Homo sapiens: one gene and its partners. The protein of the gene in region 1 interacts with the protein of each later gene in a pairwise test. Each region holds a gene or a part of one and is shown in the gene's direction. Other genes may lie near its edges. The genes, in order: AATK, PTPRR and PPM1F.

What was found.
Region 2: the proteins of AATK (region 1) and PTPRR interact in a two-hybrid assay, tested with the Homo sapiens proteins (one study listed by BioGRID and IntAct).
Region 3: the proteins of AATK (region 1) and PPM1F interact in a two-hybrid assay, tested with the Homo sapiens proteins (one study listed by BioGRID and IntAct).

Annotation. Positions count from the first base shown.
Region 1 is NC_000017.11:81,118,874-81,121,240, reverse strand, and holds part of AATK (serine/threonine-protein kinase LMTK1), read left to right. Parts: coding exon 1-1,040; intron 1,041-1,157; coding exon 1,158-1,305; intron 1,306-1,660; coding exon 1,661-1,861; intron 1,862-2,367. UniProt on the Homo sapiens protein: May be involved in neuronal differentiation.
Region 2 is NC_000012.12:70,889,608-70,893,261, reverse strand, and holds part of PTPRR (receptor-type tyrosine-protein phosphatase R isoform 1 precursor), read left to right. Parts: intron 1-284; coding exon 285-583; intron 584-3,654. UniProt on the Homo sapiens protein: Sequesters mitogen-activated protein kinases (MAPKs) such as MAPK1, MAPK3 and MAPK14 in the cytoplasm in an inactive form.
Region 3 is NC_000022.11:21,942,787-21,946,440, reverse strand, and holds part of PPM1F (protein phosphatase 1F), read left to right. Parts: intron 1-332; 5' UTR 333-392; coding exon 393-598; intron 599-3,006; exon of another isoform or gene 3,007-3,654. UniProt on the Homo sapiens protein: Dephosphorylates and concomitantly deactivates CaM-kinase II activated upon autophosphorylation, and CaM-kinases IV and I activated upon phosphorylation by CaM-kinase kinase. Promotes apoptosis.

The DNA of each region.
Region 1 (2,367 bases):
CCCCCGACTCCCTGGACTCCCTGGACATCCCGTCCTCAGCCAGTGATGGTGGCTATGAGGTCTTCAGCCCGTCGGCCACTGGCCCCTCTGGAGGGCAGCCGCGAGCGCTGGACAGTGGCTATGACACCGAGAACTATGAGTCCCCTGAGTTTGTGCTCAAGGAGGCGCAGGAAGGGTGTGAGCCCCAGGCCTTTGCGGAGCTGGCCTCAGAGGGTGAGGGCCCCGGGCCCGAGACACGGCTCTCCACCTCCCTCAGTGGCCTCAACGAGAAGAATCCCTACCGAGACTCTGCCTACTTCTCAGACCTCGAGGCTGAGGCCGAGGCCACCTCAGGCCCAGAGAAGAAGTGCGGCGGGGACCGAGCCCCCGGGCCAGAGCTGGGCCTGCCGAGCACTGGGCAGCCGTCTGAGCAGGTCTGTCTCAGGCCTGGGGTTTCCGGGGAGGCACAAGGCTCTGGCCCCGGGGAGGTGCTGCCCCCACTGCTGCAGCTTGAAGGGTCCTCCCCAGAGCCCAGCACCTGCCCCTCGGGCCTGGTCCCAGAGCCTCCGGAGCCCCAAGGCCCAGCCAAGGTGCGGCCTGGGCCCAGCCCCAGCTGCTCCCAGTTTTTCCTGCTGACCCCGGTTCCGCTGAGATCAGAAGGCAACAGCTCTGAGTTCCAGGGGCCCCCAGGACTGTTGTCAGGGCCGGCCCCACAAAAGCGGATGGGGGGCCCAGGCACCCCCAGAGCCCCACTCCGCCTGGCTCTGCCCGGCCTCCCTGCGGCCTTGGAGGGCCGGCCGGAGGAGGAGGAGGAGGACAGTGAGGACAGCGACGAGTCTGACGAGGAGCTCCGCTGCTACAGCGTCCAGGAGCCTAGCGAGGACAGCGAAGAGGAGGCGCCGGCGGTGCCCGTGGTGGTGGCTGAGAGCCAGAGCGCGCGCAACCTGCGCAGCCTGCTCAAGATGCCCAGCCTGCTGTCCGAGACCTTCTGCGAGGACCTGGAACGCAAGAAGAAGGCCGTGTCCTTCTTCGACGACGTCACCGTCTACCTCTTTGACCAGGTGGGCCGCCGCCACCCGGGGTCTGCCCGGGGCTGGGGGTCGCGCTCCCGCAGGAAGGGGTGGGAGCGGCCGCGGCTCCTGGCGGCCGAGCTACCTGGTGCTCTCTGATTCCTCCAGGAAAGCCCCACCCGGGAGCTCGGGGAGCCCTTCCCGGGCGCCAAGGAATCGCCCCCTACGTTCCTTAGGGGGAGCCCCGGCTCTCCCAGCGCCCCCAACCGGCCGCAGCAGGCTGATGGCTCCCCAAATGGCTCCACAGCGGAAGAGGGTGAGCAGGGGCGGGGCTGGGCCCGTGACGTCACGGGAGGCAGGGCCTGGTCCGTGCTGTGTGGGAGGCGGGGCCTAATGTGTGACATCATGGGAGGAGCACCTGGTCCTTGACGCGTGGGAGGCGGGCTTTGGCCCGTGTCGTCATGGGAGGCGGGTCTGGTACGTGACGTCACGGAAGGCGGGGCCTTGTCCGTGCTGCATGGGAGGCGGGGCCTGGGCCCGTGACATCATGGGAGGCGGGGCCTGGGCCCGTGACATGATGGGAGGCGGGGCCTGGGCCCGTGACTGTGGGAGCGGGGCCGGGCCGGGGTCCCAGGCTGTGAGCGCGAGTGACGCCGCGACCTGGGCTGCAGGTGGTGGGTTCGCGTGGGACGACGACTTCCCGCTGATGACGGCCAAGGCAGCCTTCGCCATGGCCCTAGACCCGGCCGCACCCGCCCCGGCTGCGCCCACGCCCACGCCCGCTCCCTTCTCGCGCTTCACGGTGTCGCCCGCGCCCACGTCCCGCTTCTCCATCACGCACGTGTCTGACTCGGACGCCGAGTCCAAGAGAGGTGAGGCCTGGGCGGGGCTGTGGCAGAAGGGCACGCGGGAGGCAGGGCACGGAGCTCCGAGGGTGGGGCCCCTCCGTCTAGGTCCTGGGCCGGGCCAGCCCCGGCTCCGCTCCGCTCCGCTCCTTCCCGGCCCCGCTCCTTCCCGGCCCCAGACCTAGCCTGGACCCCGCCTGGCCCTCGCCTGGCCCTCACCTGACCCTCACCTGACCCTCACCTGACCCTCACCTGACCCTCACCTGGCCCTCACCTGGCCCCTGCACTCGGCTCTCCTCTGCCTGACCCTACCCCGCAGACCTGCGGCAGGCCCTCTCACCGGAACCTTCCCAGCCAGAAGTCCCTGCAGACCCAGGTCCCACGGTGCCCCGGCCCCACGGTGCCCAGGTGGAGCCCTGCTGGGGGCCTGAGCCACCGCTCCCGGCCATGGCCCTCCACTATCCGCCCCACCCCAGGCTGGGCTCATCTCTGCCAGGTGTCCCTACCCCTACAGCCTCTGCCCACGTGCCTGA
Region 2 (3,654 bases), on another chromosome or scaffold:
AGGAGGAAATTTCTTAGTAAAAGTGGCATCAGAATATCTGAAAAATAGAACTTTTTCAAAGTACGCCCACTTTTATCCACCTAAAGTCTTTGAGAGGCCTTCATACCACCAGGTGTATACTATTTGTTGAGGATCATGAAGCAGACAAAGAAATATGGAGACTAACCTAAATCCTTCACAAGTCTTAAAGCCTCTCAAGAAAGGGTAATCCTCTTCATCAGATATATCTACCTCTCTTACTGAATAGGGTCTTTGATATTGTTTCTGCTTCTTCCCTCTTTCAGGGTGCTTTTCAGGAAACAATGATCATTTTTTGGCAATTAATCAGAAGAAGAGTGGGAAGCCGGTATTCATTTATAAGCATTCACAAGACATTGAGAAGAGCCTGGATATAGCCCCACAAAAAATCTACAGACATAGCTACCATTCCTCTTCCGAAGCTCAAGTAAGCAAACGCCACCAGATTGTCAATTCAGCATTTCCTAGACCCGCATATGACCCGTCTCTCAATCTGCTGGCCATGGATGGTCAAGATCTTGAAGTGGAAAATCTCCCAATCCCAGCAGCAAATGTAATTGTGGTGGTAAGTAGTATGTTAAACTGATGCTGAGGCTGATGTTGATTCTTTCCTGTCATTGATGCTTGAAAAAAGAAAAACACTGATTGTGAATAGTTATCAATGAATCCCAACGGGTATGTACCACAGCACTTATTCTGTGGTACTTCTAATTTCTTACTTGACTGTTGTCTGTTTTCTTCCTCTTACGAAATCAGAAAACTTGTCTGTATCCTCCGCTCATAGCAGAATGCATGGTACATGGTAGATGCTTAATAAATATTTGAATAAAAGATTACTTTAGGAAGGCCTTACAATTATAGTTGATTATATCTTGTACTGAGCCTCCTACCTTCTGTGAGAATCTGTTTTAAGCAGATAGGCCTTAGTCTCAGCCTGTGTAAATAAATAATACTTATTGAAGATCCTCTGGTCACTTGACTCAAATTACAATAAATAAGACAACTGAAAGGGGAGGTGTGGTAGAGGGAGAGTAGTTTTCTGTCACTGGAGCAAATAAAATGAGTTGGGAGTAATTGATAGATAACATTTTTGATATTACTGAATAATAACCATTCTTTATTAATAAAAGTGATACAATGATCCCATTGCTTATGTTCTTAAAGTTCCCTTGCTTGTATAACCCAGGTCAGAGGTTTCCAAATTGTGGAGGTTATCATAGTTTAAATACATACTGAGGTTGACACCCTATTTGAACTACAGTCACTCTCTGGTTTAACATCATTATAGAAGGATCCACATTGAAACTACAAATCAGTAGTTAAATGGTTGTTATTGCATCTCTGCTCCAAAATATAATCAAATGAGTTGATTTGTGTGGCCAAGATAATTCAATGAAACCATGTTTGCATTTTGGCAACTCCTCTATGCACCAAATGTAATTAAATCTAACAAGCTTCTTTTTTTTCTTTATTTTTTTAACCTACTACATATAGTATACTTTACTTAATATTGAGAATCAAAGTTCCATTCGTCAATGTTTTCAGCTAGCATACACTCAGTATTTATTATGATCTAGTTTCCCCTTGGGATATCTGGAAACAGAGACAAATGAAATACAGTCTCTTGTTTTGCTTGGAAAATGTCCAGAGGGAAATATCAATAATTCAATAAAAATCATAAGCTAAGAACACAAGATGAACTCTTGTTAAGAGAAAATATGTGGGTCACTTGGCATCCTGAAATACTTGAACAAGTTTTCTGCATTTACATGAGTAGCAGATGTTCTGAAGGTGAAAGTCATGTACTCTGTCTATTCAGTGAAGATAAATGATGTTAATGATGTCTCTGTATCTGGAGATGCTCCTGTTAATGCTAGGGCTCATGGGAGATATTTCCTTAGTGACCATCATATACCCATAGTCATCAACTCTTAAAGTCACTGTGAATTACAGTTCAAGAGGCTTGTTCTATCTTGTAATGTCATGTACTGTCTAGTTAATTTAATATCATGGACAATAAAAGGCACCAATGAGGAATTCTGGCAGGTCATTTCACTTTCAGCTTATTTGTGGTTTGGAGATTGATGAAGAAGCTGTGCTTTTCCTTTGGGGTGATGATTACATAGAGGCAATAGGCAATTTTGCTGCATTAGCTTTCCCTAGCCTCTGACCATGCTGTGGCTTTGGTAGCTGGCAACACCAATTGCCAGTCCTAATGTTTCCTGCAATCCACTTAGATTACTTATGTGCATGATGATTTAGCAGCAAAACTGGGGAGGCAGGGTTATTTTTTAAATAAATCAATAATGTTTAGCTTCCTCAAAAAGCAAAGGGGTGATGCAATTAAATGTCAGCTGATTTGAAGACCCATTCCATACAGAAAATGGATGTATGGATGGGGCATACAGGAAGCAAGGGATATATTCTGGGGCAGCATAATGACTTTAATGGAATAATTGATGTGTGTTTGTGCTTATCATATGTACATGAGTATAAAACATATACATCAATGCAGACCTTCTTGTTTGAGGGATATTGCAGTGGTACTAAGAATTATTTTGAGACTTAATTTATACTCAAATAGACCATGTTCTGACTATCAGTGTCTTGAACTGGAGAAATTATAGGCATTTTTTTTCCAGCCAGGGTAAAAAGCTACACTCAACCTCTAAACTTTATATGTAACTTCTAAGACTTCCTAGCTCAGAAGGAAGGATCAAGCATTTTTCCTCCAATACTTTTTTCTTTCTTGTTTCAACTATCATTGGCAATGAGTTTTAGAATGCTACCTTTAAAAAGGGCATGAAAGTTGTGTCTCTCCTCCCTTCCTGATTCCCAATTGCCACCGCAAAGCATTTCATAAGAGCATTTATCCACAAATGAATTTTTTCCCTCTTTCTTCTTTTTATTAGTAATCAGGAAAATTTATAGTTTATTTGTTACAAGGAGAGTACAACACAATTAGAATGTTTATCCCAAATAATGCTAACTATGTTCCGGAACTCAATTAAGAAGCTGTTATTAGGATTTCTGTGCAAGTACAATGTAGAGAAGATATTGAATGCCTCAAGGTCAGTACTATGGTAAGAGGAAAAAAATACCGCTTTAGATGAAAGTATGCTGTAAAATCCATAGCTCTTGTCACTGGATCCTCAGGATATTTGTCAAGACACAAGGCCACAACACCAGGAAGGAGGGAACCCAGAGGTGCAAGTGAAAATGGTGGAATGGTAGCAACTACAGGCCATTTCAGTTCAGCATAGGCTGCTGAGTGAAGAATGTTCTAGCCTGGACAGAAATCTGAGCAAACTGAGGATTAGTAAGGCTTGGGAATATAAGGGGTGGTTTTTGACATCAGTGAAACGGCATGGAAATGGGAAGATTATGATTTACTCTGTGAGATGGACTCATGGGTAAGAAAAATAAAGGAAAGGAGAAGATGGAGGAGAAGAAACAGGAAGAAGAGCAGCAGGAGAAGGAAAGGAGGCAAGGAAAGAAGGGAAAAAGAAGCGGGGGGAGAAGGGAGGAGAGGATACAGAGGCAGTTTTTAGGGAAGCAGGAAGCATTCTGTGAGCACATAGGAAGATGATGAGTTTCCAGGGGCTTGCGATCCTCTCCTTGAGATCCTAGAATCCT
Region 3 (3,654 bases), on another chromosome or scaffold:
CACCTACCTCAGTGCCTGGCCTCGGCATCCCTGTCCTGCTCGTCTCTGGCCACGCTGGCCACCCTCTGCCAGGAACAGTCTTCCTCCTCTGTCACTTCTTGACAATGTCCACCCAGCTGCTGCTCCTGGCACCATCTCCTGAGACCGGATCTCTGGATGCCCACAAGTCCCCACCTGGACTCATGTCAAAACAGTGGCCAGGGTTGTCCCTCCACCCTCTAGTGGCCCTGAACCATGAGGCCATGCACCTGCCACATGGTGCTTGCAGGTGGGCACCTGCATTGCTGGTGCCATGGCCCCCTGATTCTGCTGACTCTGACATTTCTCCCCAGGGTGAAGCCTGGAGACCCTCTTGCCCTGGCCTAGCTGCAGGCCCCCGGGATGCTTTGGGCATGTCCTCTGGAGCCCCACAGAAGAGCAGCCCAATGGCCAGTGGAGCTGAGGAGACCCCAGGCTTCCTGGACACGCTCCTGCAAGACTTCCCAGCCCTGCTGAACCCAGAGGACCCTCTGCCATGGAAGGCCCCAGGGACGGTGCTCAGCCAGGAGGAGGTGGAGGGCGAGCTGGCTGAGCTGGCCATGGGCTTTCTGGGCAGCAGGTAGGCCTGTGCACCCCCAAAGGGGACGGGGAGTAAGGGCACGGCACCAGGGCCGACAAGGGATGTGGCTGCTGCTCCCCTACACGTCCAGCCCCACACGGGGATCTGCAGCCCCGGATCCCTATGCAGCACCATGTGGAACTCCCGTGGCTGCTATGGCAAAGCACCACACACTGGGCACTCAACACAGCCAAAGCTCATTCTTTCACAGGGCTGGAGGCCAGAGTCCAAGATCAAGGTGGCAGCTGCGCCATGCTCTCTCAAAGGCTGCAGGGAAGAGTCTGCCTTTCTGTTAGTGCCTGGCCTTGACTTCCTGGAGGTCCTTGGCTTGTAGACTCATTCCTCCTAGCTGGCCTTGTTGCACACGGCATCTCCCCATGTGTGTGTCTGTGCCTTCACACCTCCCCACCCTGCCTGCTGTGTGTCTGTGACTCCTCCTCTTGTAAGGACATGGGCATTTTGGACCAGGGGCTGCCCTCCTACAGTGTGATCTCATCTTTCTTTTTGTGGAGAATGGGGTCTCGCTATGCTGCCCAGGCTGGTCTCGAATTTCTGGGCTCCATGGATCCTCATGTTTTTGCCTCCCTAAATGCTGGGATTACAGGCATGAGCCACTCCAGCCAATGTGACCTCATGTGAACATAACTAATTACATTTGCAAAGACTTTAACTCCAAATAAGATCATATTCTGAGCCACAGGGGGCTGGGGCTTCAACATACCTTTTAGGGAACACAATTTATTGCATAGCAGCTGATAAGCAGTACGTCCTGTTTCCGATCCGTGTGATGGACGAGGAGGCAGAGGTGGGTAGATGAAGAGGCTGGCCTGAGGCCTTACAGTCAAGGAGTGGCAGAGCCACATGGCACCCCAGCCACCACGATCTGAGAGATAGCTGGCACTGTCCCCCTTCCACAGGTGAGGAAGCTGAGGCACAGAGAGGTAGCACAACTAGCCGAGCAGATTTCGGGGAAGATAGAGAGTTGGGTGTCCACCGGCAGACAGTGTGTAGCTGTCGCCTAGGCTGAACTCAGAGGTCCTTTCCTTGGAAGACCCTTGCCCTCCCCTTCATTTATTCATTCATTCTGGAAGCATTTGTCCCATGAAAGATGGTGAAGGACAAGGTCTTTTCTCGAACCCTCTCTGCTCAGACAGGGTCTTGGAGTTAGGCTGTCTGTCTGGCACAGGGGACAGCTCATGGAGGTGAGCAGGCTGGTGGGCCGCGTGCTGTTTCTGTGAACCTAGTCCCTTGCTGAGGGGATGTGCGCATGGTCCCCAGTCCCAGCATCACCCAAATCACCTGAAATATCACCTGAAGCCATGACAGGCCCTCAGCCATAGCTCCCTCTGACAGAGCCACCATCCTCGGTGGCTGCCTCAGTATCCCCCAAGTGTGCACTTCCTTTGCCCCTTGCAGCGAATCAACTCTGTTCCTGACACCCACCAAGGGCCTATTTTCCTTGACCCCAGGCCCTAGCAGAGTCAGTGACTTGTGCTCTCCCTGTGCAACATGGGCACAAACATTGCTAAGTGTCAGCCACATGCAAGGGCTATGCCACCCAGCATCCCCCACAGCTGCCTAGAGCTCAGGAGGAAATGTCCGGTGACCACGCTCCATGAGGTCATGGCATGCGCAAAGGGTGTTATTGGCTTGTTTTGAGGAAATATTTTAGATATGTGGCACAAAGTGAATCAGCCCCCAGTGGTGGAGCAGAGTGGGCCCAGCAGGGGTGCCAATGCACGGGAGGTGAGGAAAGGCCTCACGTTCTGCCTTCTTGAGAGGAGCAGGTGGCACTCTGCAGGGAGCAGGGGAGTCCAGACCAGGGAGTTCTGCAGCCACTGGGTCTTCGTGGAGGTGGCATGGGGCCATTGCTGCCTTGAGGCAAAAAGCCAGGCCCGGGACAGAAGGGTTGGTGCACTTTGGCCCAAGCATGAGGTGACCGGGCAAAGCCAAGCGGTGCCAGCCCCAAGCTGGGGATCAGATGGAAAAGCCATCCCGGGGAACAACAGAGCCCAGGGGTTTGCTGGGCCTGCGTGGGGCACAGGTGCTGAAGACGGACAGGCCGCAGCACCGGGGTGACAACATCAGCCTTCAGTTCCTGGGCAGGGGGAGAAGGGCGCAGAGCAGGGTCCCAGGGAAGGATCCAAGGTGGGAGGGCCTGGAGGGCTGAGGAGTGAGTAGGCAGTGCAGGTGACCTGCCCAGGAGGGCCCCGAACCAAAGTGTTGGGGTCAGTGCTGGGGGCGCAGGGGAGGGCAGTGGGTTTTGGTTTTGATGCGAGAGCAGCCAGACTTGTTGAGCGGCTGCTGTGTGAGCCACCTAGTGATGGGTGCGAGCAGGAGGGGTGCAGAGCTCCCGAGTCTCCTCAGCCCCCAGGAACCCACCTTACATGGTGAACTAAAATGGAGTATTTGAAGTTGTTATATGTTCCAGCCATCTTATTGGATTTATTTTTTAAGTTATTTTTGTTCTTTTCTAGCATCTTCTTTCACACGCAGGTGTGGATGTGCATAGGTGTAGTCAGCACTTGGGGTCTGAGCCTCACACGTTGTCTACACTAAGCCTGGCTGTCCACACACACGCACTCACATGTGCCCATACACAGTCACGAGTTCCACCTCCGAGCTCTGCTTCCCGTGTCCCAGCCTGAGGAGGGGCTCTTGGGCATGAAGGGCTTTGAGCATCTTGGTCCCTGAGCTCTTTCACAGACCGTAAAAGGCATCCTTCTGGAGGCCATCCAGGAGTCAGAACATCCAGTCCACAGGGGGCTATTTACGCCTTGTCTCCGCTCTTGTTTGGAGCCTCCTGTCACATATTTGAGTCCCTGAGCAGTGCATACCGTACACTAATGATTTGAGTGTGGTTTTTGTCTCTGCCACTAGACTATAAGCCTCTTGTAACAGCCCCTGCCCCAAGGTCGGTGAGACGTGTTTCTCAGGCACCTGGGCCTTGCATACACCTTGGCTTGTCCCTGGAGCATCTTCTTGCCTTGTGTAGGAGCCTGCTCTGCAGGGACCAGAATCAGGGTGGATCTGCATGGTGCAGTGACTCAGGGCTG